5 separate regions of the Homo sapiens genome follow, and all the other regions are linked to region 1. The links come from fine-mapping of genetic effects on gene expression. A gene starts in region 1. Each other region holds a variant in brackets. All regions are shown on one strand. Distances are from middle to middle.

Evidence for each region. PIP is the estimated chance that this variant, and not a neighbour inherited with it, causes the effect. A credible set is the group of variants that fine-mapping cannot tell apart.
Region 2: its variant is the best candidate, but not a certain one, in a credible set for the expression of KLHL8 in whole blood (INTERVAL, PIP 0.73).
Region 3: its variant is the best candidate, but not a certain one, in a credible set for the expression of KLHL8 in whole blood (INTERVAL, PIP 0.78).
Region 4: its variant is the best candidate, but not a certain one, in a credible set for the expression of KLHL8 in whole blood (TOPMed, PIP 0.72).
Region 5: its variant is the best candidate, but not a certain one, in a credible set for the expression of KLHL8 in whole blood (TOPMed, PIP 0.67).

The regions. Positions count from the first base shown.
Region 1 is chr4:87,217,668-87,223,935 of GRCh38, forward strand. KLHL8 (kelch like family member 8) reads right to left here and starts at 2,951. Exons shown (of 10, transcript NM_020803.5): 1 at 2,751-2,951. RefSeq lists an enhancer at 1,953-2,565 and silencers at 2,071-2,340, 2,681-3,170.
Region 2 is chr4:87,186,223-87,192,490 of GRCh38, forward strand. The region is part of intron 2 of KLHL8 (kelch like family member 8); the gene reads right to left. Among named protein-coding and RNA genes, the nearest start is that of KLHL8, 31 kb to the right of the region's middle. The variant C/T (reference allele first, on the strand shown) is at 2,683.
Region 3 is chr4:86,629,165-86,635,432 of GRCh38, forward strand. It overlaps PTPN13 (protein tyrosine phosphatase non-receptor type 13), which reads left to right. Exons shown (of 48, transcript NM_080683.3): 2 at 6,088-6,207. The coding sequence starts at 6,093. Among named protein-coding and RNA genes, the nearest start is that of PTPN13, 38 kb to the left of the region's middle. The variant C/T (reference allele first, on the strand shown) is at 3,485.
Region 4 is chr4:87,119,717-87,124,716 of GRCh38, forward strand. All of the region lies in intron 12 of AFF1 (ALF transcription elongation factor 1), which reads left to right. Among named protein-coding and RNA genes, the nearest start is that of KLHL8, 98 kb to the right of the region's middle. RefSeq lists an enhancer at 415-990. The variant G/A (reference allele first, on the strand shown) is at 2,338.
Region 5 is chr4:86,864,530-86,870,797 of GRCh38, forward strand. It overlaps the pseudogene RPL6P13. Among named protein-coding and RNA genes, the nearest start is that of SLC10A6, 18 kb to the left of the region's middle. The variant A/C (reference allele first, on the strand shown) is at 2,861.

The sequences.
Region 1 (6,268 bases):
AATATAGAGAAAGGTCTCACTTTGTTGCCCAGGATGGTCTCAAACTCCTGGGCTCAAGCAATCCTCCTGCCTTGACCTCCCAAATTGCAGTTACAGGTGTGAGCTACCATGTGGGGCCCTTTAGTTCTTAATATACAAAAATAAATGTGACTCTTGGGAATTCCAATATAAGTAACCAAAAATTTAAACATTCAATTTATAAAACACAAAAACTATCTGAAATTAATGTTTAAGATGTCTGCAATAGTCTCTTTAATCTTTTTAAAATGACAATATCCATTTCAGTTCTCTACAACTCTCAAAAGTTCTTGATAAAAACAAAAGGGTTATTTGTCCAAACCCACAGAATGTTTAACACCAAGAATGAATCCTAACTGTGGATGTGATAACATGTCAATGTAGGTTCATCAATTGTAATATACGTACCACTCTGATGAGAGATTTTGGCTCTGTAGGGGTAGGCGATACATGGGAAATCTCTATACCTTCCACTCAGTTTTGTTGTGAACTTACAACTGCTCTAAAAAAGAAAATTCATTTTTCAAAATAGCAGGTGGGATCAAAATTTACCCAACTTTTTTTTTTTTTTTAGATGGAGTCTCGTTCTATTGCCAGGCTGGAGTGCAGCTGCGTGATCTCAGCTCACTTCCACCTCCCAGGTTCAAGTGATTCTCGTGTCTCTGGGACTACAGGCATGCGCCACCATGCCCAGCTAATTTTTTTGTATTTTTAGTAGAGATGGGGTTTCACCATGTTGGCCAGGATGGTCTTGATCTCCTGACCTCTTGATCCGCCCGCCTCGGCCTCCCAAAGTGTTGGGATTACAGGCGTGAGCCACCGCGCCCGGCCCTAACTTTCTTCTTAATGAATGAAGAAATACTGTTTTTAAAAAATAACCCTCACTGAATGTGAACTGAGTTTCTTGTCAAAAAATGTGCAATTATTACAGAATATATCATCTTAACCAATTATCAGTAATCTTATCAAATGCTAAAAGAATTGGCAGCTTTAAAAATTAAAATGATGAAGCTAAGTGCTCATATGTAGTTGAATAGAGTATCCTTAGACTTTTTTTTTCTTTTTTTGAGATGGAGTCTCACTCTGTCGCCCAGGCTGGAGCGCAGTGGCATGATCTCGGTTCACTGCAACCTCCGCCTCCCGGGTTCAAGCCATTCTCCTGTCTTAGCCTCTCGAGTAGCTGAGACTACAGGCATGTGCCACCACGCTCAGCTAATTTTTGTTATTTTTAGTAGAGATGGGGTTTCACCATGTTGGCCAGACTGGTCTCGAAAATCCTGACCTCAAGTGATCCCCCCGCCTCAATCTCCCAAAGTGCTGGGATTACAGGCGTGAGCCACTGCACCCGGCCCCTGAGACACCTCTTTTTATATTTAGGCTTACGCAATTTTGGTATCTTGAAAGCAATTTTTTTAAAAAGTGACGAAATAAATAAAGTGACTAAAAGTTTGAAGTTTGAACTGGGTCAGTTTGACAAATTAAGAAGGGTGCCAGGAGGAAGTCTGAGGAAAAGCAGCAGCTTAATGCCACCGCCATCTCCAAGCAGCGTTCCAGGCGCCAGCACTGTTAGCAGCAGTCCTCTGCGTACCCAAGAGTACCGCAGGGCCAGAACACGAGAAAGATGCGCGAAGAGGATTTCCTTCTAGAGAGAGAATAAAGAACACCAAGAGTCCAACAATTACCATCTTGTATAGGAGAAAAACAATGCAAAGGAAAAAACGTGCAACCAGCAGATAAAATACTTATGTCAACCCAGGTTCTAAGGACCTTTTCCCAAAGTATCCCTCTAAACTGGTAACATTAGCTTAGGGCAGAGTCAAGAAGAAAGTTATGCCATTAACACAGATGAAAATACTGAACGTTTTCTATGAAAAGTCACCCGATTAAACACTGCCAAGAGGGAAAAACAGTGCAAGTCCAGTAAAGCACGAGACACGTAGAAAATTCAAGCTATGTAGCCAAATCGCTCTCTCTGAAGAAAACAGCAAGCCAACTGAACCCAGCACGGAGTGGAAGGCGTAAAGAGCTGTCATCGTGGCGGTAACAACTCCACCGGGCGGCTGAGCGTCTAGAAAGAGGCTGCGGTTCCTGGTTCCACATCAGGAGGCACTCTCCACAAGGTCTACACCGCCGCTCCCGGGAAGGCACCTCCAGGGCGGCCAGCAAGCCCCCCGAGTGGGGACAGGCAGTGCCTTCCTCGCCTCGTCCCCGCGCGGCGTGGCCCGGAGGTGGCCCACTCGCCCCGCCCCCGCAGGCCGCGGCTCCAGGGGGCGTCCGGCCGCCCTCCCGGGGCCCCGAACCCGCGCCAGCCGCACCGCGCCTGCCCTCTTCCTGGACCCCGCGAAGCACCTGCCTGGGCCCCTCTTCGAAAGACTGGGAGGAAGGAGTCAAGGAGCTGCCGGGGAGGCTGACAGAGCCAGAGGCTGGAGCTCCCCTACGGGAGCCGGGAGCATAACCCTGCTCCTCCCGCCAATGGGGGCGACAAAAGCCGTGGAAGGTTGCTCAGGGGCTGGATCTCCTGCTGTCCGGGCCCCAAGCCCTCTCAGCTGTGGAGTTTCGGTTGGTGCACGAGGGCTCGAATTTCCTCCGCACACCGGAGACCCAAGACGGGACGGTGTTGCGACTTGGGGGCTGGGGTGAGGGAGGGCTCGGCGCGAGCGGACGGCACCGCACAAAGGAAGAGGGGACTGAGGGGAGACGAGGGGACTGAGGGGAGACGAGCGTCCCGTTACCTCGATCCTCGACCCTGTTCTTCCTGATGTCGCTAAGGTTGCAGCCACGTTACCACGCTCCCAGAGCCCCGGCCGCCCTCAGCGGAACCTCACCAACCCCGCGCGAGCACCCGGCGGACGCGCGCTCTCCTGCGCGGCCCCGCGGAGCCCCGGCGGGCGCTTGGCGTCCTCTCGCCTCAGCCCCCGCGAGCCGCGGCCTCTGGGGGCGGGGCGGGCTGGGCGGGGCTGCGCACGGCACTCTGGGAAGTGTGGTTCTCGGGACCTCCTCCCCGAGGCCACCCCCACGGCCTCGCCCCCGCGGCTCCCTAGTGGGCGGCCGGGTCTCAGGGACTGGGCAGTGTTGCCCGGCCTGGTGAAGGCGGACCAGGGCGTGGCGGAGGTCCCCATAACAAATCTTGAAATAAAACACTGCCTAAATACCTTTGAGCTTATCCATGCTTCACTTCTGCGGCGGTACAAAATTTAGTTTCTTTGTATGTCCATCAAATCCCCTTCTGCGGTTGTGAGTGTTCCTGGGATTTATGTCTTTGAAAAAAGAAGGGGAAAAAAAGGTTTGCATTTATTCCTGTGTCACTTTCACCACGTGCTCTACAAAGGATATACAAAACAACTGTGTTTATAAATACACACCCACAGTTTGTAAACCTAAGGAAGCAGTTGATTGACCTGAGAGCTCGCTGCTAAAAAGCAGTGCAAGTGGCCATGCGCGGTGGCTCACGCCTGTAATCCCAGCACTTTGGGAGGCTGAGGCGGGCGCATCACGAGGTCAGGAGTCGAGACCATCCTGGCCAACATGGTGAAACTCCGTCTGTACTAAAAATACAAAAATTAGCTGGGCGTGGTTGTGCGTGCCACCAATCCCAGCTATTCGCAAGGCTGAGGCAGGAGAATTGCTTGAACCCGGGAGTCGGAGGTTGCAGTGAGCTGAGATTGTGCCATTGCACTCCAGCCTGGCGACAGAGCAAGACTCCGTCTAAAAAAAAAAAAAAAAAAAAAAAAAGCAATGCAAGTAAAAGTGCTGTTGAAATGAATTAATTTTTCTATAATGTCAATAAAGTGGAATGTGTGAGGCGGGAGATCAAGAGACAGCAAAAAAACAAAATTTTTTTTAAAGAAAGATATTCCCCTAAATGTGTCTTTTGCCAGACTAACCTCAAACTTTCACAATCCTAGGAGTCTATTTCAGAATAAATTTAATCCTAGGACCTTTATTAATATTAACACATATGAACATTAGCACATTGATTTTAATAGAAATGAACATATATATATCTGTATATATATATGCATCTTCTATAAAAACCCCAAAGCAACTATTTGAATTTGAAATTTTATTTCTAGAAAAAAAATCACATTTTTTACATTGAAATATAAATAATTCTTAATATTTCAAAATATTCCTCTTTAGAGCATTAGTATTTTGCACATTTAATGCAAATACCTTTAGAAAAATAGAGTAAGATGAGTTTTAAAGAAGTATGCAGTGAAGAAAAGTCATAAAATGTGTCTGGAACGTGATGTAAAAATTGTTGGGACTCAGAAATCGATACCCCAAAATATGGTGCTTTGCCGCGCTGAACTGAGGAAGCAGCTTCAAGGTGTCTCTTACCTTCCCCATTACCCCTCCTGCCTCTCAATTCTTTGTCTCTCCCAAAGCACCAAATGATGTCGTTCTCTGAATTTCCCTTATCTGCCTAGAAACTAGACCTGCCAAAGAGGAACATATTTGCCTTACCTGATTTTTCATTTACTTAACTCATATTGGAGGAAGAAAGACTGAAGTCTGTCAACACTCTTGGACAGACTTTTGTCACAAACTATTGTCTGCTGTATGGGCTCAACACACTTTTTCCCAGGCCATTGTATGTTCCCCATTTTCCCCTAAAAGTCCTTTACTATACCTTAAGTTGCCACATTTCCCCAATCTCCCTTTCCCCCATAAAGAAGAGTATATAAACGTCTCTACCCCATTGAGTCATTGGGTAATCATTCTCCTGAAATCTCCCTGTGTTATGCACATTAAAATAAATTTTGTATGTCTTTTTTCCTATTAGTCTGCCATTTGACAGTTGATTTTTCAGTGAACCTTCCAAGGGAAAAGGGAAAGCTTCCCTGTATTCCCTTTATTAAACATAAAACACAATATGTATTTTATTTATTTATTTATTTTATTTTATTTTTTTGAGACGGAGTTTTGCTCTTGTCGCCCAGGCTGGAGTGCAGTGGCACAATCTCAGCTCACTGCAACCTCCACCTCCCAGGTTCAAGTGATTCTCCTGCCTCAGCCTCTGCAATAGTTGGGATTACAGGTGTCTGCCACCACGCCCGGCTAATTTTTGCATTTTTAGTAGAGACAGGGTTTTACCATGTTGGCCAGGCTGGTCTCGAACACCTGACCTCAAGTGATCCACTCGCCTCAGCCTCCCAAAGTGCTGGGATTACAGGCATGAGCCACCACGCCCGGCCTACAATATGTATTTAGTAAGACCATGTTAATAGAAATTTTGTTTTTTATAGCCTAAGCTTTTATTTTATTTTATTTATTTTATTTTAGAGACAGAGTCTCACTCTGTTGCCTAGGCTAGAGTGCAGTGAGTAGCACAATCATGGCTCACTGTAATCTTGATTTCCCCGGCTCAGGTGATTCTCCCACCTCCCGAGTAGCTGGAATTACAGGCCCACACCACCACACCTGGCTAATTTTTTTGTTTGTTTTGTTTTGTTTTGTTTTGTTTTGTAGAGATGGGGTTTCTCCATGTTGCCCAGGCTGGTTGTCAAACTCCTGGTCACAAGGGATCTGCCTTTCTTGGCCTCCCAAAGTGCTGGGATTACAGGTGTAAGCCACCATTCCTGGCCACTTTTCTTGTAATAAGGTGCACAGTAACTCCTAAAAATGCTTATAAAAAAGAGCACAACTGCTCTTTTTCTTCTGCTAATTGACATATACACAATAAACTATTTGTAGTTACTAACAAATCAAAGAAATATACACAATATTTCAATATTATTATCATCTATTTATCGAAGAACATTTTTTGAGCACCAGACACTGAGCTAGGAACTGGGAAATACGCAGTAGACAAAATTGAATAGTCCCTGCTCTCATGGAGACTTAGGATCTAGACTCGGAGACAGAGAATTAAACAGTGAATAATGAAAAGGTATGCATGGGGTGGCCAGGGGTTTGGGGAGCACCTAAGATACACCTAATCTAGAGCCTTTTATTGGGGCAGAGGAGTCTGGCAAAAATTCTGAAAATTAAATGAAATTTTTAAACCAAATAGCTATAAACTGGGGCAAAAAAAATCTTTCCCTAAAAAGTGATATATCTGTAACAATGCTCTCAAATAATTACTTAAAAATATATACAGTATCTTACAAAATAAGACATACCTCAACTAAAACAAAACACACATTTCCTAAATCGGACGAAATGTCTTCTTAGTTTTTACCCATTCCTCCCTAGCTCCATTTGAGAATAAGCAAGACTAGCCTATAATAAGTAAGGATCTAAGAAA
Region 2 (6,268 bases), 31 kb before region 1:
TTTTCAGTAGAGACAGGGTTTCACCACGTTGGCCAGGTTGGTCTTGAACTCCTGGCCTCAACTGATTCACCTGCCTCAGCCTCCCAAAGTGCTGGGATTACCAGTGTGAGCCACCACACTCGGCCTCTTTTATATATGTATCTGTAACATACACACAACAAACCATGATTTTCTATGTTATATTTCAGGGACATTTTGTGAATTAATACCAGCAAACATCAGTTAGCACTCATTACATGCCAACCACTATTGTAAGTGCTTTTTTTTTTTTTTTTGAAATAGGGTCTCACCCTGTTGCCCAGGCTGGAGTGCAGTGACGTGATCATGGCTCATTGCAGCCTCAACCTGCTGGGCTCGAGCAATCCCCCAACTTAGCCTCCCCAGCAGCTAGGACTACAGGCATGTGCCACCACACCCAGCTAATTTTTGTATTTTTCAGTAGGGACAGGGTTTTGCCATGCTGCCCAGGCTGGTCTCAAACTCCTGGGCTCAAGTGATTCACGCACTTTGGCCTCCCAAAGTGCTAGGATTACAGGCATGAGCCACAGAGCCTGGCCTTCTAAGTGCTTTTCATATACTAACTCAGTTGTCCCAACATCCCTATGAGTAAGTACTATTATTATCCACAATTTATCAATCAGAAAACTGGAGCAGAGAGTAAATATTTAGTAGTATTTACTATGAGCTCAACTGAGGTTTTTTTTTATTTTCTATTTACATTATCTTGAAATGATATAGCTCACATAAAAGCAGTAAAAAAAAAACACTGCAATCTCATCACCTTAATTATTGAAAAATCAGATAGCTTCCAACAGTATGCTATTACAAATAGCACACTAGTGAACTTCTTTGTAACTAAATCGTTATTCACATTCTCTATTATTCCAACAGATAAATTATTGTAAGTAGAGATGCTGCTTCAAAGGATACAATGTGAATATGTGAATACATAATGTCAAACTGTCCATTTCTGAGCTTCTTACAGTATTTGCACCATATCTTGAGTGTTGTTATTGTTGTTGTTGTTGTACAAAGTCTATGCTGCCCAGGTTGATCTCAAACTCCTAAGCTCATGCAATCCTCCCGCCTCGGCCTCCAAAAGTGCTAAGATTATAGGTGTGAGCCATTGTGCCCGGCCATAGTTGCCAATTTGATGAATAAAAAGATCTCATCTTTTTTTTTCTTTTTTGCTCTTAAGATTGAATCATTTATAAATTTTGAGCTATTTGTATTTCTTCTATGAACTACAAATTTTTTATTTATAAGTACTCATCATATAATCAGAGTATTAGGCATTTGTCATATATATTTCAAACTTCTCTTTTAGTTTGCTTTCAAATTTTATTCTCTTATATAAAAACCCTATGGATTTTTATGTAATTAAATGAAGTCTTTTTATTTATTGTTTTAGGTACCTGCTAGAAATGGGAATCATTCTAATATTCTATATTTACTTCACGTATTTTTTATACTACTTTTATGGTTTTATGTTTTACACTTAAATTTTTACTTACATCTGGAAGTTTTTGGTACTGAGTGGGAAGATATCTTCTTTTTAATACAGTATTTATCCCATTTTCCCAGGAGTTTATAATAATCAAATACAAGTAACAGTTATAGTACTATTTTAACAGTTTTCCTGTTTTCATGTAGTGTTTTGATTATATAATAAACAGTTGTATCTCATTATTTGAGAACTAATTTTAAAATGACAACTCCTAGAGTGTTCAAATGTATAAATGGTTTTGCTTATAAAAGCCCCTTCCTCAGTCTTTTTTCACTAATGTGGAGGAAGAAGCAGTATCACTTATTTCAGAAAGTACAAGACAATCATTTCTGTCTGTTATGCTATATTAAATTTTTTCACAGAACTCACAAGGCAGTATTTAGATTCCATTGAGACTAAAGTTGTAATGTAGACTATAACATAAAGCTTGGCATGTTTTCAAATTCACGTCAGCTCTAAAATGGGATCTGAAATCTGATACTAAATAACTTTTAAATAGCCTAAGCATATCCTTTAAAAAATTATTTCCACATGCCACCACTGGGATTCAGTTTCTATGCAAATATTTGTAAGTCTCACATGACTTAAACCTGCTCCATTAAATAACTTGCCAACACTCTCTTACATAATAGTATCATAAAATAGGGTTCTACAATTTCTAGATAACCATTATTTTAACACTTGCCATCCAAGCTGTACAAATCAATGGCCGGCAAGTCATTTTCATGTTGTTTTTAATAAGATTCTGTCCCTTTACAATTCCATTTGAGTCTTGATTCAAACAAACTAAAATGTGGCTATTTAACACATACACCCCTATGTACCCTTTTAGAATAAATATCCATCTTTATTTTATAAAGATCTTTAAGCCACATGTATAAATAGGAACAGCCAAAAATTTGGCTTTTTAATGCACTGATTCTCCTTTGATGTTATATAGTTAATTACATTCCTGAAAGTTTATTTGTACATTTTCTTTCTCTGGTACAAAAAAATAATTACCAATTACCAAAATCATTTCATTAGAAATTTGAAAATGAAAGGAATCAAAGTCTAAAGACCTGATGTTTAAAATTGGATGAAAAACACACAAGCTACATAATATTAGACATTACCGTGTATTTAGAATTATATAAATACTATATGTCCCTGATACTACTTAATTTTCTAATTTA[C/T]ATTCTTTCTTTGTTAGATCAGTGAACGTGTGACTAATTCAAGATAGTATTACGAAAGAAAAACCTTAGACAATTAAATTTAACGGAGTTTAACTGAGCAAAGACGGATTCAAGAATTGGGCAGTCCTGGAACAAGAATAGGTTCAAAGACACTGGTGCTGGTGCATAGTCGAAAATTATTTACGGACAGAAAAAGGAAGGTGACACACAGAAAACGGAAGTGAGGTACAGAAACAGACGGGTCAGTTACAGCTCAGGGTCAGCCTTACTTGAACACAGGTTGAACAACTGGTTGCCTTTAATTGGCTGAACCTCAGTGATTAGCACAAGAGTAGGTTGCAGTCTGTTTACACAACCAGTTAGGTTACAGTTTACTGTGTACAGAGAAACTTTTAGGCCAAGTTTAAAATACATAAGGTGGGAGCTTCAGGCTAAACTTAACAGTACTCAGGGAAAAATCATGTCACACTTCAGTATTAAAATATGTAGAATATCAACATTCATTAAATGATTCCTTAGACTTTTGTTTAAAAAGCTTGAAATACCAACTATTAATAAAAACTTTGAGTAATTTTCCAGAGATTAGCCAATATGAATGGAAATACAATGAAAATAAGGCTTTTGGATTAGTAAAGCACTTGACTATCAACATACAAAGCATTCCTAACTCCACTAGTTAGGACTTCATCATGGCTCGAGTGCCACTTGCTCGAGCCCGCTCCCACTCTGTGGAGTGTACTTTCATTTCAATAAATCTGTGCTTTTGTTGCTATTGAAAAAAAAAAGAGTTAACATTTATTTTGTAAACTATCTCCACTTCACTTAAAAAAGTTTAGTAAAGGCCGGGCGCAGCTCACGCCTGTAATCCCAGCACTTTGGGCGGGATCCACCGAGGAGGGCGGATCAGGAGGTCAGGAGATGGAGACCATCCTGGCTAACATGGTGAAACCCCGTCTATACTGAAAATACAAAAAAAAAAATTAGCCGGGCATGGTGGCACGCGCCTGTAGTCCCAGCTACTTGGGAGGCTGAGGCAGGAGAATCGCTTGAACCTCGGAGGCAGAGGTTGCAGTGAGCTGAGATTGTGCCACTGCACTCCAGCCTGGGCAACAGAGTGAGCCTCCATCTCAAAAAAAAAAAAAAAAAAAAGAATTTTAGAAAAAGTAAAATTTTATCTTAGTATTATTAACCATTATATATACAGGAAAATTTTCCATATCAGTTGAAAAATGCCCTTCTACTCTAATATACTTTAACATTCATCATTAGCAACTTATGCAAGCATCTTCTTTAATATCTTTTACTCTACATGTATATTATTCATTACTATTTCAATGTTGTTTTGACATTTACATTATGACTTTTTGATTACTGTAAATACTATTATAGTGGATATACAGTTGCATAACTTTGTAGGTAATAATAATCTTGATACTTCAAAATAAAAAATAACCTACTGGCCAGGGGCAGTGGCTCATGCCTGTAATCCCAGCACTTTGGGAGGCCAAGGTAGGCGGATCACCTGAGGTCAGGAGTTCAAGACCAGCCTGGCCAACATGGTGAAACCCCATCTCTATAAAAATACAAAAATTAGCTGAGCATGATGGTGGGTGCCTATAATCCCAGCTACTCGGGGGGCTGACGTGGAAGAATCGCTTGAACCCGGGAGGCAGAGGTTGCAGTGAGCCAAGATCGTGCCATTGCACTCCAGCCTGGGTGACAGAGTGAGACTCTGTCTTTAAAAAAAAAAAAAAAAGCTTACTGTTTAGTCTATTCAGGCTGCTATAACAAACTATCACTGGGTGGCTGATAAACAACATAATTTATTTCTCATAGTTCTTGAGACTAGAAAGTTCAAGATCAAGGCACTGGCAAATCCATGTCTGGTAAGGACTTGCTCTAAGTTCACTGATGCCAACTCTTCTTTGTGTCTTCAGATGGTGGAAGGCACAGAGCAGCTATCTGTGGCCTCTTTTTCTTTTTCTTTTTAATGTCTAAATACAATTTTAATGAGGTACAGATACATGCTCAATTTGTGATCATGAGTTATAACAAATCACAGTTTAGTTATAATTACAAAAATAGTGAAATCAGAATGTAAAGGAAAACCTTTATAAATAAGAACATCCTCAACTTTAAAGATGGCTTAGGTTTCTACATATCTCAAGATCTGCTTTGTATTTAAAATGAATAGTGAAGAGTGTATATATAATATACAAATAAAATAACATTGTGCTTCTTAAAAGCTGTATGTAAAGGGAAATATTTTTTAAATTACTAGAGGCCAGGCATGGTGGCTCATGCCTGTAATCCCAGCAGTTTGGGAGGCTGAGGCAGACAGATCGCTTGAGTCCAGGAGTTCAAGACCAGCCTGGGCAACATGGCCAAACCCCCTCTCTACAAAAAGTGCAAAAATTAACTGGGTGTGATGGTGTGCACCTGTAGTCTCAGCTACTCAGGGGGTGGAGTAGGGTTTGGGTCCAGGAGGTGGAGGTTGCCATGACCCATGACTGCATCACTGTACTCCAGCCTGGGTGACAGAGCAAGACCTTGTCTCAAAATAATAAAATAAGCCTATAATCCTTTCCCCTTATAAAGTAAAAAATAATTTACTATTCCTTCATTCTTACAGTTTTATTTTTATTTTAAATTTATATTTTTCTTTTATTGTAAATATATATACATATTTTGCTTTTTTCAACTTTTACTTTAGAATTAGGGGTGCATGTGTAGGTCTGTTGCATAGATATATTGCATCATGCTGAGGTTTGGTGTATAAATGAATCTATAACCCAGGTAGTGAGCATAATACACAACATAAAATAAACAGTTTATTTCAATTCATACCCCCACCGCCTTCCCTCCTTCCCCCATATTGTATCCACCACTATTTTTCCCATTTTCATGACCATGTTTACTCAATATTTAGTTCCCACTTACAAGTGGGAACAAGTGGTATTTGGTTTTCTGCTTCTTTATTAGTTCACTTAGGATAATGGTTTCCAGCTGCGTGTATGTTGCTGCAAATAACATGATTTCATTCTTTTCTATGGTTGTGTAGTATTCCACAGTGTATATATAACACATTTTCCATATCCAATCCACCACTGATGGGCACCTGGGCTGATTCCATATCTTTGCTATTTGTGAATAGCACTGCAATGAACATGCGGGTATATGTGTCTTTTTGATAGAATGATTTATTTTCCTCTGGGTATATACCCACTAGGAGGATTGCTGGGTTGAATGGTAGTTCAAGTCTCAGTTCTTTGAGAAGTATCCAAACTGCTCTCCACAGTGGCTGAACTAATCTACATTCCCACCAACAGTGTATAAGTGTTCCCTTCTCTCCACAGCCTTGCCAACATCTGTTATTTTTTGACTTTTTAACAAAAGCCATTCTGACTGATGTGAGATGGTATCTCTTTGTGGTTCTGGTTTGCATTCTTCTAATGACTGGTGATGATGAGTTATTTTTTCATGTATTTGTTGGCCACTTGTGGGTCTTCTTTTGAGAAGTATATGTTCATGTCCTTTGCCTACTTTTTACTGTACCTTTTCTGTTTAGATATGTTTAGATAAATAC
Region 3 (6,268 bases), 590 kb before region 1:
ACAACATGGGAGAAAATTTTCGCAACCTACTCATCTGACAAAGGGCTAATATCCAGAATCTACAATGAACTCAAACAAATTTACAAGAAAAAAACAAACAACCCCATCAAAAAGTGGGCGAAGGACATGAACAGACACTTCTCAAAAGAAGACATTTATGCAGCCAAAAAACACATGAAGAAATGCTCATCATCACTGGCCATCAGAGAAATGCAAATCAAAACCACTATGAGATATCATCTCACACCAGTTAGAATGGCAATCATTAAAAAGTCAGGAAACAACAGGTGCTGGAGAGGATGTGGAGAAATAGGAACACTTTTACACTGTTGGTGGGACTGTGGTTCATTTTTTAACAGTTCTTTCTTTTCAAATAGCAAAGATGTTTAATTTTGATGAATTCCAGTTTATCAATTTTGTTTTTCTAATCTGGGTCATGCATTTGTTTTCATATCTACAAAAACATTGGCTAACTGAAGTCACCATAATTTTCTCCTAACTTTTTAATGGCCTTCAAGACCTTATTGTGTGCAGAAAAGCTTATTGAAAATTATTTTTAAATGAACATTCTTATTACATTAAAAATTCTAAAACCTATGTCTTACTTTTTTTTTAATGGGGTCTTGCTCTGTTGCCCAGGCTGGAGTGGAGTGGTGCAATTATAGCATTGCAGTCTCCACCTCCCAGGCTCAAGCAATCCTCCCATCTCAACCTCTCAGGTAGCTGGGACTACAGGCACGCACCATCATGTTCAGCTAATTTTTTTAAAAAGCATTATTATATATAGAGACGAGGTATCGCTGTATTGCCCAGGCAGTCTTGAACCCCTGGACTCAAGTGATCCTCTCACCTTGGCCTCCCAAAGTGCTGGGATTACAGGCATAAGTCACTGCACCTGGCCATAGTTCTTAAGCTTTTAAGGTCAATTTAATTATTTTTTCTATTTATACATGCAGAAAATTTCAAGGGACCCTTTGAGTGTATAATCTCATTTTCAAATTTAGTCAGTTAACATCCCATAAACACTTTAAACTGCATTCATACAATTAAAAGCCAATTTTTAAAGTATTTCTTGTATCTGACTGACAGAAAAAACCTTCCCAAGTACCCAAATAAGTCTTCTAATGAATGAAAACTTATATAGTAAGACTTATGTATAGCAAGCCTTTAAGGGTCTCTTGTATGTTCCAGTGGCATTTTGTATGTTTTAAAATACAAGCCTCAACCATTTTCTCATTACACTATTTAAATTGGAATCACCATGCGAATCTGTTATTCTAACTCACCTATTTCTCCTAGCTAAGATACTATATATGTACAGATTCTTTAATTTTAAAAAATACTAATATATGGGCTGTGTCTCAAACTTTTCTATACTTAATTCTGAATCTTCCTGGATGAAAAGATGCTTACAATTTTGGGGTTGCCTTCTCAACTCACTGTGGTTTTTTAATGACCAAAGATGTCCTTAGCCTGGATGGTGAGTGAATCCTTGCTCAAACTAGTGGCATACACAGAGCTCCATTTTATAGCTGCTTTGTTCTTGAAACAGCATGTTTCTATTAGCCCTATTTCTTTAGATTCAAGTTAAACATTCCTAATTAATCTGTCTCCAGACAGGTTATTTTATCACTTGATTGGATTTAGTTAATCTGTTTACTGTTCATTCTGTTCTCAATCACTGGTATGTACTAGCTGTGCGTGCCACAATCCTTCAGGATTAAAATGACATCTGTTAGAATCTCCTTGTGGCTTTGTCTCTGTGAGCAGTTTTAAGGTCATGTCAGTAATACCTGTGTTAACCAAAAACATAATAATGATTCTGGTTATGTGATAGAATTAATTTTTCTTATTTGAAATTTTTTTCCAAAAACTTTCTAGTTATCATGCAGCATATAACCTTCAAGAGAATAAAAGTAAATAATATGGCTATGTTTATTGTAAAATTTAACCTTTGTGATAGGTTAATGTGATAACGTCTGTTATATATCTGTACTCCCAAGTTACCTAGTACTGTGTCTAAAGGAAACAATTGAAGCAATAGGCTTTAAAAAATTTTTGTAACTAATTCTGTCCTCATCTGTTGGTTGACTTCAAGCTTTTTTCCCTCCATTTTCTTTTTTCTTTTTTGCATTCCTCTTCAGCTTCTGCATTTCTTTCATTCCCTTGTTATCTTCGGAGCTAATGATCTGAAGTGCTATAACAGTAAAATAAACATGTGAGAGAGAAAGATGGTGCTAGTAGGCAATTTATAAGCTGATAGCTTTGTTGTTTGTTTTCTAGAAAGCTGCTGTAATACTACATTAAATTCTGACATTGGGTAATTAGAATGAGGCAGTTTTAAAAAAATCTTTAAGTTCTTGCCTAGCAAAGCTGTAAATTAAAAATATTAAATCTATTCTGATAGCTTGATGATAACTTTGAAAAACAAATGTTCCTTTCTATGTTTTGGAGTTCTAAGAAGTTCTAACCAGAAATGTTCATAAAGATCCCATATTGAATATACAAAAAAAGTTTAAATAAAAATTAACACGGTATTGATATAATTCGTACCCGATTCAATCAAGCAACAGAGGTATAATTAGCAATCTTTGTAGCTAGAAAAATTAATTGCTGAAAAAATTCTATTGTGTGAGAAGTTACTTTTAACCTTTTCATTTTTTTATTTATAGGGAATAATTATATTTTAAAACCCAATTTATTTTTAAAAAGTAAGGAAAAACAGTATCTTAAGATTTAAAACCTAGTCTGTCTCTTGTGCTCTCTATATATACACATAAATATATGTGTGTATGTATGTATAAAGCCAACATACTGGTTTTACAATGGGATACATAACATATCATCATAAGCAACCTAATTTTGTTCTCCTTCCTTTTGTCCTTCCATCCTTCCTTATATCACCAGAGGAAGTTCTGCCTCTATATAAAAACCCAGATTCATAATTCCCTCCTTGCCCTTTGGTAATACTAATGACTACAGTCACTTAAACTCCATAATTAAAAGTACCTAGTCAGTATATTAATCAACCTTTCAATGTCCATTCAGAGCTAAAACTTTTCCCTTCCCTAGCTAAGATTATCTATAGATGGAAGACAGTGTGATTAGCTTCTCTTTTTGTTGCTTATCTCCTCACCCACTGGCAAGTTGCTATATCTGACCCCATCAGGATCTAAACCAGGGGAAGGAAGAGAGAAAGCAAGGCAAACAGTTTTTGTTGTTGTTTTTCCCACACTCCTGTTGTGAAATTGCTTTACTGTTTTTGAACTTGATATGTGTTTAAGGCTGGCCCTTTTTCTTCGGTGTGCTTTTGTGGGTTCTTCACAATCCTTCACTGGAACTACACTACATGTGACACTCCAGAATTTTTCCCTCCAACTAGCCAGTAACCCCTAACCCCTCTAGCCCTCAGCCTAGTTTTCTTTCAGGCCATTCCACAGTAGAAATAATTCTAATTTGAATCCTTCTTCTTTCTCTTTCTCCT[C/T]TTCTTTCCCTTCTCTCCTTTTCCCCTCCTCCCCCTGCGCCTCCTCCCTTCTTCCTTTTTCTTGGTGGTGGTCTGGGTACTTCAGGTGGAACTCTGGGTAGAATTTTTTAAACAGCTTTTCGAGATATACTTCACATACAATAAAACTTACCCTTTAAAAAAATTCTTTTTAGTTTTTTAGAAACGGTCTCACTCTGTCAACCAGGCTGGAGTACAGAAGCATGATCATAGCTCACTGTAACCTCAGACTCCTGGGCTCAAGCGAGCCTCCCTTTTCAGCCTCCTTAATAGGTAGGACTACAGTAGGCACCACCATGCCCGGCTGATTTTATTTTTTGTAGAGATGAGGGTCTCCCCATGTTGTCCAGGCTGGTTTTGAACTTCTGGCCTGAAGCGATCCTCCTACCTTAGCCTCCCAAATTGCTGGGATTACAGGCTTAAGCCACTATGCTCAGCCTTCACCCTTATAAAGTGTACCTTTAGTTATTTTTAGAATTTTTGTGCAACCATTGCCACTATCTAAATTTTAGGACATTTTAATCCTCTGGGTAGGATTTCATATAGGTCCAAGCTGGCCCTCTGTGTGGCCGTGCTTCCTTGCCCCTCTCTTACCCTGAGCAGTGGAAGTATAGCTGGCTTCTGATACAGTATGTCTCCTCACTCTTGTGTGCCCTCCCTCTCCTGTCTACCTCATGTTGCTGCCTCAGAGTGATAGGCAACACCTTTAGATTCCTAAAGTGTGTATTAGGCACTGCCTGATGTGCCCTCCACTAACTCCAGAGAACATATATCAAGGACTCCCAGGGGTCCCATTAAAGCTTCTTTCACTGGCTTGAGGTGAAAGGAAGGCACCTTTCCACATCCCTCCCACTTTGGAGGAGACATGAAAATCAGCACACAACTCTCTTCAAAGAAATTCTTGTTCTATCTTTGCTCTACTCTTTATACCCTGAGTATATGCGTTAGAGCTATCTAACCAGTTCTCAGACATATTACTTTGGAAATTTGCTACAGGGTAGTCCTTCACACAAGTCATGTTGGTATCTGATTGCTAATATTATCTGATCCCTCTGTTGAAACTTCCAATTTATCAATATTTTTCATGTAGAAGATAACTCACATATCTTTAGAAAGGAATGAAGCTTCTACTTTTTTCTCTTGAATAAATATGCTATTATATAATAAAGTCAATGAGAACCTAGAGACTTTGGTGCAGGCAGGGGATCTAAATAAATAATCGCACTTCTTGTACAACCTAAGTAAAAACGCTTTTGGCTTTTTTAAAGCAGTATCTTATAGTTTCCTTTTAACTTTCACATTGTGTATATAAGTAGACACCCTGGAGGCAGACTTTAAGCATAAAATGTTTTAGTAAACATTTAAAAAGGAAAGTGAAAGGACAAGACTGGCCTCATTTATAGTTGGAATTGCTTTTTTCAGTCAGGATTAAGTACCATAAATGTAAATTAAAAGAAAATAGTAGCTTGTCTTGTTAGTTGAGTAAACAAAGTCAACTTTTATCTAAAACAGATGTTTTTATAGGTTAACTTTTAAACTCCTTATTTGGCTTCTTTTCCAAATCTGCTTCTCCCTTACAGTAGAAATATACTATATATGTTATGCTTAAATTGGTTTTGTCTGGGTAGAAATCTTATGAATCACTCTAAAGAACAATTTTCAAGCTGTGTCAATTTAGGAAAATTTATATAGAAGGATTTTAACTAGTTACATTTTCCTCTTTTAACATGAAAATAGGCTTATTAAGCCCCATAGAAAATCTTAAGTTTTATCAGTATATCATCACTTAACTGAACGCCATTGGAAAAATTGACCTGACAAAAATTTCAGCACAGACACTTATCTGATCTTTTATTAATTCACCTTCTGTAGAATCATATATCAAAGCATGTTCACAAGCATAGCCACTTCCCTTGTCATAGCCACCCAAAATGACATTTTTATTGTTACTATCATTCCTGTGTTACAATAGGGAAACAGAGGTTTAAAGGAAAAGTGACTCTCCCAGGGAAAATGGTGAGTTGCCAACAAAGCTGGGTCTGGAAATACTTAATTGCATTTAGTGCAAAATATACAGTTATAGTATATATATTGGAGATAATAGAAATCAACTAAAGAATGAAAGAAATGTGTTCCATCTTATTCCCAACTTCCCCTACCATGGCTGTAGGTTCTCCTCTCTATTTCTCTCTACTTTTATATCTGGGATGGATAGGATGAAACCTGGAACAGAAATCTGAAAGGCCTTCAGTTCAGTCTGACTGCTTTGGTTTATGATCTGTATTTTGGTGCCTCCTAGTACCCTGGGGTCTCTTCCTTTTTCCGTAAAGCAGTCACCACCCCCATTCTCCAGTTCTGTCTCTGAAGTTGACCGTGTTGGGCTAGGGCAAGTGGTTGTTTTGAGGGTTTTTCCCTCCAATTCCTTTACCTTCTGTGAGTTTAAGATAACATTTAGATTGGTAGCCATATTGAGAAATTAGGTAGACAGGGGGCTTATAGTCTGTCATCACTGATGTAGAGCTTTTACTACTGCAAGTATAGTTAAGTTGCTGATGCATAGACCATCTGTTACCTTTGTTTCCCAGGTAATATGCACGTGTCACTAGCTGAGGCCCTGGAGGTTCGGGGTGGACCACTTCAGGAGGAAGAAATATGGGCTGTATTAAATCAAAGTGCTGAAAGTCTCCAAGAATTATTCAGAAAAGGTAAGCTGCTGCTGCTGCTGCTGTTGTTGTTGTTGTTTCAGTATTGGGTACTTAAAAAACA
Region 4 (5,000 bases), 99 kb before region 1:
ATTTAGATGAATAACTGAATAAGGAGGTGCATTCATTCAAATCTTTTTTACTTTTTCTAAATAATCGCTTTGCTGACCAAGACACTTCAACTTTTTTGGGAAAGACATTCCAGTGCTATCATTTATGCGTTTTGAAGAGTGAGGAAGGGAAGTTATGATGTGTAGTAGGAAAATGCAGTTTTATTGCAGGGAGTGATTGGTTCAGTCCTTCCCTTCCATCCAAGATCTGACTGTCTTTTCTTGGGTTATTGCTCCAGATCAGCACCCCTAGTTATCGTTCAAAATGAAAGCTCATCCCTTCTGATTGACTAAGGCCACTTACATCTAAATTTCTTCGTGCCTGTTAGTTACCCTGAGGAGAGCACCACAACCATATGCATGTGATAGCTTAGGCTGTTCTGAATCATGCGTTCCCTCACCAAAGAGAAAAACAAGTGGATGAATTTCCCTTTTCTGTAGCACTCACCCCAGTGAACATAACCTGTCTGCACAGCAAGTCCCTGGGCCTGATCTTGGTACAAACTTGAATTGGTGTCCCTTGTGTCTTTTTCATATTGAATCTCCTTCCGAGGCGAATCACAGGGAAGTCCCTGAATTTCCCCAAAGACTGCTTCTCCAGTTTTCTGTGTTGCATGTGCTACCAAGCTCATTTGCTTCCTTTTGGAAGAGGATAATAGAGCCTTAGAATTTAGGTGCGGAAAGAACCTTAGTGGTCCCTTGATCAGCTGCCACCTTTTATAGATGAGATCCAAAAAGGCACTAACATGGCTTGACTGCTGAGTAAAAATAGATCTGCAGCTCAGGCATGCTGCCTCCTCCCAGTCCCGTGAGCTTTCCTCTTTTTCACATGTGTTTTCTCCGTACAAGTGTCTGTTGGGAGGATTCTCAAGAGGCGCACAAGGTCGGCGTACTGGCTCTGGCGCTGCCGGTGAATAAGGTGGTTACCGCGTCAGCCCCGGCTTGGTTCCTCCACGGCCCCCACCACTGCCACTCAGTGCCCACACACATTCCTACTCCACTTTAGCTACTCCTGCAGATGCTCCCATCTTCCTTCACAGCCAAACTCCTGGTTCACTACATCTTTCCATCTGCTAGAATCTCTATGGCACCAAATAAGTGTCAGTTCTGGAAAAAGCCACCTTTTCCCTGCTTCCTACAAGTGTCTGCTTGGTGAGCTGGCTGCACGGCAGCGCAGCCTGCCGAGAGGCTTTCCCTGACGGAAACTGACTTGGCCCCTTGCAAGCCCATGTCTTCCTTTTATGGCCTTCACTCTTGCCCTGTGCTCCACTGTGGGTGGAGCAGCATCTGGCAGAGATGATCAGGGCTGCCTGACCCAACAGGTTAAGAAAAGCAAACAAGTCTGTGAGGACCAATTCGTCAGCCGGCAGCCTCCCTTTGTGGAAGGTGAGGCACCATCCTTGAGACAACTAACCTAGTAGAAAAAGAATTTCTGAAACCCAGACCTTAAGCCAGATTCCCTGAAGTGGGGATGACCTGGGGATAAACCACAGGGCAAAGGGACTCCTTTTTCCTCCTGAAGAGAGAGTATCACCTCATCTGAATGGCTTCTTGACCCAGAAAAATCTAAAGAACAGCATGCCTCCTGTTTTACGGCAGGTCTTGTTCTTGGAATTTTGGTCTGCATTTCTGCTCACCCAATATTGCATGGCTCCCATGTTAATGACCCTTTCCTACATCCATCCACTTAAAGTTGTAATGCAGTCCTGCATCCAGTGCCCTCAGCTGTGTCCCTGAGCTGTTAAGCTGAATTTCTGTGCCAACTGACAAATACCGAGTGCCTACTCTGGGGAAGCCTCTGTGGCTGTTCCAGACAGAAGATGACAAAGTTCTAAGTGCATAGTGTACAAAAAACCACTAACTTCATGCCCGCTGGCTTGATCTCAACAGTTAAGCAAAATCAGCAGAAGGGGACTTTTGCTTTATTTAGTTTGATGGCTTCCTTTCTACCAGCTTATAGAATATTATCTGCTTCTAGGTTGCTAAATATCAATATAAAGCATATTATTCCAGTAAGTGCCAATGCAGTTGTTAGATGCTGGCGCTGAAGTTAGTGCTCACTGCATTCTCTCTTGTTGGCTGTCTACTTGAGTCACCGATTGGCACAGCCAGAGCTATAACCAGTCTGTGAGGATTGATTTGCCCTGACTTGTATCTTCATGTGTGGTCTATAAGGTCTGCCAGATTGGCTTATAGTCACAACCAGCATGTCCTAAGCAAAATGAAACTATATGAACAAAAATCAGCTCTCATTTCACTGCTAGACTTTGGTGTTTTCTTTAAGAAGTAGCCTTGTTAATGCTTAGTTTTGCCTTGGGG[G/A]CCTTAATGTGTCATTAACTGCCTGGAAATACCTTTCATTTAAAAAAGTATACTTTAGTACCTAATGTTCAATTTAGTATCGATCTGGATATTTTAGCAAATTTTGACTTTTCAAAGACAAAGTTTCTGTCTTGTAATGTTTCTTGGGCCGGCTATACTGCCTTTCATCTAAAACTCACTACAGTTCACTGGGCCGTTTGGTAACAGGGTAACCTGGGCATAATTAGGTGCTTGATTGACAAGAGAGTTACCAGTACCAGAAGTCAGGTTCTATTTTAACCCCATCATTTCCAATTGATTGTTTTTCTCTCCACCATTATTCACTGTCTCTCAAGTGTTAGCACTCTGAGTTGTTGAACGGAGGTTTGTATGCTGCGCAGAGCCCTGTCGCAATGCCCCAGCAAGCTTCTTGTTGGCATGTGGCCACTCTAAATTGTGCTCCAGGATCTGCTATGGGTCCATGCTTGCAGGAGAAACAGCTGTGTAGAATTTCCTATTGCATTTCATTTGTGGGTTTAGAACTCGGTTGCTTATTTCATATTGTCTCCCTTTTCAGTCCTTCAAGGTACATTTTTCCAACTTCTCTAATGAATTATTACATTTCTGAGTAGCTGATATGTTTTTATCTTATCTAAGCAGTATATTTATAATTCCTTCTTTGCATTGGCTAATCTGATTAGTAGTTCAGAACCCAATTTTCAGATTGTCTATAGCAAACTGTGAAGAACTGTGCTGTCAAGTAGAAATAGAATATAAGCCACATATGTAATTTAAACTTTTCTAATACCACATTAAAAACTATAAAAGGGGAGGAAATGGAAAATTAGTAAAAAAAAAAAAAAAAAAAAAAAAATTCTTTTTGAGACAGTCTCATTCTGATGCCCAGGCTGGAGTGCAGTGGCGCAATCTCAGCTCACTGCACCCTCCACCTCCTGGGTTCTAGTGATTCTTGGCCTCAGCTTCCTGAGTAGCTGGGACTACAGGCACGCACCACCACACTCGACTAATTTTTATGTTTTTAGTAGAGATGGAGTTTCACAATGTTGGCCAGACTGGTCTTGAACTCCTGACCTCAAGTCATCCATCCACCTTGGCCTCCCAAAGTGCTGGGATTACAGGCATGAGCCACCGCGCCCAGCCTAACATTTTAATAATTATATCTAATCCAGTATACCTAAAAGATTACTTTAATCAACTCCCAAAATATGTAAGTCTGTTATACATCAGTAAAAAAATCAATATAAAAATATTACATTCTCTTTTTTCTACTAAGTCATTTCAGACTAACACCATTCAAGTTCAGGTGCTCCCTAGATGTGGCTGTGGCTGCAGCTGCCAGATGGTAGCATGCAGGACAGTGAGAACTGATAGCCTCCCGAGGGTACGAGCCTTCACTTGGCCTTAATTTATTTCTTCCTCCTGTATTTTCCCTTCTTAACATTCTCACTTGTGCACATGCCGCAAGATTAAAAACAGGTATCTTTGTAAGCCACTCTGAAGGAAGCCGTTTTGAAACAAGACACTGCATAAATGAATAAAAGTGTCTTTTCCAAAGGAGCCTGTGAAGGGCTGGATGGATGTGCAGATGCAGGCACACTGATTTGTAGGATGCCAGGAGAAGGGAATTTTGTTTTTTTTCTGTTTTCTATTATTTTGTGTGGAGCCAGGCTGCTTATTGGTGTCTGGGCAGATTTGGAGCCTACACATCTTAAATTATTCATTTTTCTTAAACTCGGGAGGAGAGGAAGACACAGGAAAACTGGGACCTCCCACAGTTAATTTGAAGTTTTTTATTTTTTAAGAGAGGATTTCAGGTTTGTTAGGGATTGTCCTAAATTGACTGGTGTCCCAGATTTCTAACTTGGTGACCTGACACTTAGGAAGTTTCGTTCTAAATGCACATGAGAATTAATTGAAGGGTCTCACCCATCACTTACCTGCCACCTGCTAGACAGTATGTGGGCTTCCTCCTGAACCCAGAGCCATGGGAAGGAGGCCGTCAGGGAGTCTGCATGTCAGACTCCTTAGAAAGCTGGTGTATGTGCTAACAAGTGAGGCACAAGAATGCAAGAAAGACTTTCATCGTGGAAGAATTCTGTGTTGTTTTAGTGATTAAATGTATTTAGCACTTTAGTTGGTATAAATGGATGCTTTGAAGGTACTTAAATTCTTTTTTCTTTTTTTTAACCCTACTTTCAAGCTACCAAGTTAGAGATACTTAAATTCAATAGTGACAGATTCCCTTTTCCTTACTCCCACTAAAATATTTACAGTCTTTTCAGGGTTTTTTGAAAAATAAAAACATGTTTCTGTATATGGAGAGATATAAAGACAGTATTAAAAAAATTGAATCAGTGGAGGGGAAAAAATGTTAGCTAGAATCCCAGAGCAATTGTTTCTATTGTTGTTATATATCTTTGTAGTCCTTTCTGTAAAATACACGGGATTTTGTAGACGGTTTCCTTTCAACATTGTACTTATTTTTCAGTAGAAAATAAAGTAAGCTTTAAGTAGTCCATTTTGAATTTTATACAAACAATAAACTAGTGGGTTTAAGTGGATGGTTCTTTCGAAAGAAGTTGGAGGAAACCTCATAAAAAATCATCTCTGTATTATTTGATGTAAATATGCATGTTTTGTGGATTCTTTTCTATTTAGAAAAA
Region 5 (6,268 bases), 350 kb before region 1:
AGAATGGAACCAAGTTGGAAAACACTCTGCAGGATATTATCCAGGAGAACTTCCCCAATCTAGCAAGGCAGGCCAACATTCAGATTCAGGAAATACAGAGAACACCACAAAGATACTCCTCGAGAAGAGCAACTCCAAGACACATAATTGTCAGATTCACCAAAGTTGAAATGAAGGAAAAAATGTTAAGGGCAGCCAGAGAGAAAGGTCGGGTTACCCTCAAAGGGAAGCCCATCAGACTAACAGCAGATCTCTTGGCAGAAATTCTACAAGCCAGAAGAGAGTGGGGGCCAATATTCAACATTCTTAAAGAAAAGAATTTTCAACCCAGAATTTCATATCCAGCCAAACTTAGCTTCATAAGTGAAGGAGAAATAAAATACTTTACAGACAAGCAAATGCTGAGAGATTTTGTCACCACCAGGCCTGCCCTAAAAGAGCTCCTGAAGGAAGCACTAAACATGGAAAGGAACAACCGGTACCAGCTGCTGCAAAATCATGCCAAAATGTAAAGACCATCGAGACTAGGAAGAAACTGCATCAACTAACGAGCAAAATAACCAGCTAACATCGTAATGACAGGATCAAATTCACACATCACAATATTAACTTTAAATGTAAATGGACTAAATGCTCCAATTAAAAGACACAGACTGGCAAATTGGATAAAGAGTCAAGACCCATCAGTGTGCTGTATTCAGGAAACCCAACTCACGTGCAGAGACACACATAGGCTTAAAATAAAAGGATGGAGGAAGATCTACCAAGCAAATGGAAAACAAAAAAAGGCAGGGGTTGCAATCCTAGTCTCTGATAAAACAGACTTTAAACCAACAAAGATCAAAAGAGACAAAGAAGGCCATTACATAATGGTAAAGGGATCAATTCAACAAGAAGAGCTAACTATCCTAAATATATATGCACCCAATACAGGAGCACCCAGATTCATAAAGCAAGTCCTGAGTGACCTACAAAGAGACTTAGACTCCCACACATTAATAATGGGAGACTTTAACACCCCACTGTCAACTTTAGACAGATCAACGAGACAGAAAGTCAACAAGCATACCCAGGAATTGAACTCAGCTCTGCACCAAGCGGACCTAATAGACATCTACAGAACTCTCCACCCCAAATCAACAGAATATACATTTTTTTCAGCACCACACCACACCTATTCCAAAATTGACCACATACTTGGAAGTAAAGCACTCCTCAGCAAATGTAAAAGAACAGAAATTATAACAAACTATCTCTCAGACCACAGTGCAATCAAACTAGAACTCAGGATTAAGAATCTCACTCAAAACCGCTCAACTACATGGAAACTGAACAACCTGCTCCTGAATGAATACTGGGTACATAATGAAATGAAGGCAGAAATAAAGATGTTCTTTGAAACCAACGAGAACAAAGACACAACATACCAGAATCTCTGGGACGCATTCAAAGCAGTGTGTAGAGGGAAATTTATAGCACTAAATGCCCACAAGAGAAAGCAGGAAAGATCCAAAATTGACACCCTAACATCACAATTAAAAGAACTAGAAAAGCAAGAGCAAACACATTCAAAAGCTAGCAGAAGGCAAGAAATAACTAAGATCAGAGCAGAACTGAAGGAAATAGAGACAAAAAACCCTTCAAAAAATTAATGAATCCAGGAGCTGGTTTTTTGAAAGGATCAACAAAATTGATAGACCGCTAGCAAGACTAATAAAGAAAAAAAGAGAGAAGAATCAAATAGACGCACTAAAAAATGATAAAGGGGATATCACCACCGATCCCACAGAAATACAAACTACCATCAGAGAATACTACAAATACCTCTATGCAAATAAACTAGAAAATCTAGAAGAAATGGATAAATTCCTCGACACATACACTCTCCCAAGACTAAACCAGGAAGAAGTTGAATCTCTGAATAGACCAATAACAGGATCTGAAATTGTGGCAATCATCAATAGCTTACCAACCAAAAGGAGTCCAGGACCAGATGGATTCACAGCCGAATTCTACAAGAGGTACAAGGAGGAACTGGTACCATTCCTTCTGAAACTATTCCAATCAACAGAAAAAGAGGGAATCCTCCCTAACTCATTTTATGAGGCCAGCATCATCCTGATACCAAAGCCGGGCAGAGACACAACCAAAAAAGAGAATTTTAGACAAATATCTTTGATGAACATTAATGCAAAAATCCTCAATAAAATACTGGCAAACTGAATCCAGCAGCACATCAAAAAGCTTATCCACCATGATCAAGTGGGCTTCATCCCTGGGATGCAAGGCTGGTTCAATATAAGCAAATCAATAAATGTAATCCAGCATATAAACAGACCCAAACACAAAAACCACATGATTATCCCAATAGATGCAGAAAAGGCCTTCGACAAAATTCAACAACCCTTCATGCTAAAAACTCTCAATAAATTAGGTATTGATGGGACATATCTCAAAATAATAAGAGCTATCTATGACAAATCCACAGCCAATATCATACTGAATGGGCAAAACTGGAAGCATTCCCTTTGAAAACTGGCACAAGACAGGGACGCCCTCTCTCACCACTCCTATTCAACATAGTGTTGGAAGTTCTGGCCAGGGCAATTAGGCAGGAGAAGGAAATAAAGGGTATTCAGTTAGGAAAAGAGGAAGTCAAATTGTCCCTGTTTGCAGACGACATGATTGTATATCTAGAAAACCCCATTGTCTCAGCCCAAAATCTCCTTAAGCTGATAAGCAACTTCAGCAAAGTCTCAGGATACAAAATCAATGTACAAAAATCATAAGCATTCTTATACACCAACAACAGACAAACAGAGAGCCAAATCATGAGTGAACTCCCATTCACAATTGCTTC[A/C]AAGAGAATAAAATACATAGGAATCCAACTTACAAGGGATGTGAAGGACCTCTTCAAGGAGAACTACAAACCACTACTCAACGAAATAGAAGAGGAAACAAACAAATGGAAGAACATTCCATGCTCATGGGTAGGAAGAATCAATATCGTGAAAATGGCCATACTGCTCAAGGTAATTTACAGATTCAATGCAATTCCCATCCAGCTACAAATGACTTTCTTCACAGAATTGGAAAAAACTACTTTAAAGTTCATATGGAACCCAAAAAGAGCCCGCATCGCCAAGTCAATACTAAGCCAAAAGAACAAAGCTGGAGGCATCACGCTACCTGACTTCAAACTATACTACAAGGCTACAGTAACCAAAACAGCATGGTACTGGTACCAAAACAGAAATATAGATCAATGGAACAGAACAGAGCCCTCAGAAATAATGCCGCATATCTACAACTATCTGATCTTTGACAAACCTGACAAAAACAAGCAATGGGGAAAGGATTCCCTATTTAATAAATGGTGCTGGGAAAACTGGCTAGCCATATGTAGAAAGCTGAAACTGGATCCCTTGCTTACACCTTATACAAAAATCAATTCAAGATGGATTAAAGACTTAAACGTTAGACCTAAAACCATAAAAACCCTAGAAGAAAACCTAGGCATTACCATTCAGGACATAGGCATGGGCAAGGACTTCATGTCTATAACACCAAAAGCAATGGCAACAAAAGCCAAAATTGACAAATGGGATCTAATTAAACTAAAGAGCTTCTGCACAGCAAAAGAAAGTACCCTCAGACTGAACAGGCAACCTACAAAATGGGAGAAAATTTTCACAACCTACTCATCTGACAAAGGGCTAATATCCAGAATCTACAATGAACTCAAATTTACAAGAAAAAAACAACCCCATCAAAAAGTGGGCAAAGGACATGAACAGACACTTCTCAAAAGAAGACATTTATGCAGCCAACAGGCACATGAAAAAATGTGCATCATCACTGGCCATCAGAGAAATGCAAATCAAAACCACAATGAGATACCATCTCACACCAGTTAGAATGGCAATCATTAAAAAGTCAGGAAACAACAGGTGCTGGAGAGGATGTGGAGAAATAGGAACACTTTTACACTGTTGGTGGGACTGTAAACTAGTTCAACCATTGTGAAAGTCGGTGTGGTGATTCCTCAGGGATCTAGAACTAGAAATACCATTTGACCCAGCCATCCCATTACTGGGTATATACCCAAAGGACTATAAATCATGCTGCTATAAAGACACATGCACACGTATGTTTATTGTGGCATTATTCACAATAGCAAAGACTTGGAACCAACCCAAATGTCCAACAATGATAGACTGGATTAAGAAAATGTGGCACATATGCACCATGGAATACTATGCAGCCATAAAAAATGATGAGTTCATGTCCTTTGTAGGGACATGGATGAAATTGGAAATCATCATTCTCAGTAAACTATCACAAGAACAAAAAACCAAACACTGCATATTCTCACTCATAGGTGGGAATTGAACAATGAGAACACATGGACACAGGAAGGGGAACATCACACTCTGGGGACTGTTGTGGGGTGGGGGGAGGGGGGAGGGATAGCATTGGGAGATATACCTAATGCTAGATGACAAGCTGGTGGGTGCAGCGCACCAGCATGGCACATGTATGCATATGTGACTAACCTGCACATTGTGCACATGTACCCTAAAACTTAAAGTATAATAATAATTAATTAATTAATTAAAAAAAAAAAAAAGCACAGGGCCTGGTAGGCCGTGGGGAAGGGCATTACTCAGGGAAGTGACAGGATCTTTTTGGCAATAACATGACTGCCATTTTTAAAAGATCACTTTGGCTGTTGAGGACAGACTATAGGAAAGTCAAAAATGAAAGCAAGGAGGTCAGTTAAGAGGCCTTCTCCATATTCCAAACAAGAGATGATGGAGACTAGGGTGAGGATGATAGAGGTAAGAGAGAAATTGATACATGTGGAATATATTCAGGAGGTAGAGCCCATGATACTTGCCAATAGATTGGACCAAAGAGGAGATGAAGGACCTGGAGGAATCACAGATGACCCCCTGGGTTTCTGGCCTAAGCAATGGAATAAAAATGGTGCCATTTACTGGAATGGGAAAGAAGATAACTGTTCTTAGAACTACAATGAAAAGAGTATATTATGTACAGTGGCTCATGCCTGTAATCTCAGCACTTTGGGAGGCCAAAGCAGGAGGATCAGTTGAGGCCACGAATTTGAAGCTGCAGTGAGCTATGATGGTGCCACTGCACTCCAGCCTGAGCAACAAAGCAAGACCGTATTTCTAAATAAAATAAAAAGGTGAAAAGAGGTTAGAGAAACCTCTGTCCTAGGGAAAGCAAGATCCTGAGATACAGACAATGAGCAAAGGGGAGCCTTTTTCCCTCCATTCTTGCTGCTCTGTCAACTGATGGCGTAGGTCCTGCCTCATCAAGAGTCTGGCCCAGCCCCAGCCCCAGACTTTCTTCTCCTCCTGATGTTAGAACTCTGCTCTCCTCTTTCTTGCCCCTTTCTCCCTTGCAGTTGTGGTAAGGACTAAAGAATATAAATAGAATGCCTAGAAGAGTTTCAAGTACATAATAAATTCTTGTTAATTTTTTTCTTTCTTCTGTTTTTTCTTTGTTATTAGATAAAATGTTTTCACGGATAAAATTTTAATACACTTTGTCAACTGAAAACAAAAAGATTCCATAAATTCCAATAATTCACTATTAAATTTCTATGCTGAGTTCTCTTTCCCATCTTGCAAGATGGTGGGTGAAAAGGTTGAGAAGCCAGATCCTAAAGAGAAGAAACCAGAAGCCAAGAAGGCTGATGCTGGTGGCAAGGTAAAAAGGGGCAGCCTCAAGACTAAAAAGCCCAAGAGGGAGAAGCCCCATTGCAGCTGAAATCCTGTCTTTGTCAGAGGAATTGGCAGGTATTCCCAATCAGCCATGTATTCCAGAAAGGCCATGTACAAGAGGAAGCACTCAGCTGCTGAATCCAAGGTTGAAAAGAAAAAGAAGTTCTTGCAACTATTACAAAACCAGTTGGTGGTGACAAGAACGGTGGTACCCAGGTGGTTAAACATCGCAAAATGCCTAGATATTATCCTACTGAAGATGTGCCTCAAAAGCTGTTGAGCCACGGCAAAAAAACCGTTCAGTCAGCACATGAGAAAACTGTGAGCCAGCATCACCCCTGGGACCATTCTGATCACCCTCACTGAGCACCACAGAGGCAAAAGGGTGGTTTTCCTGAAGCTGCTGGCTAGTGGCTTGTTACTTGTGACTGGACCTCCGGTCTTCAACCAAGATCCTCTACAAAGAACACGCCAGAAATCTGTCACTGCCACCTCAACCAAAATTGATAATCAGC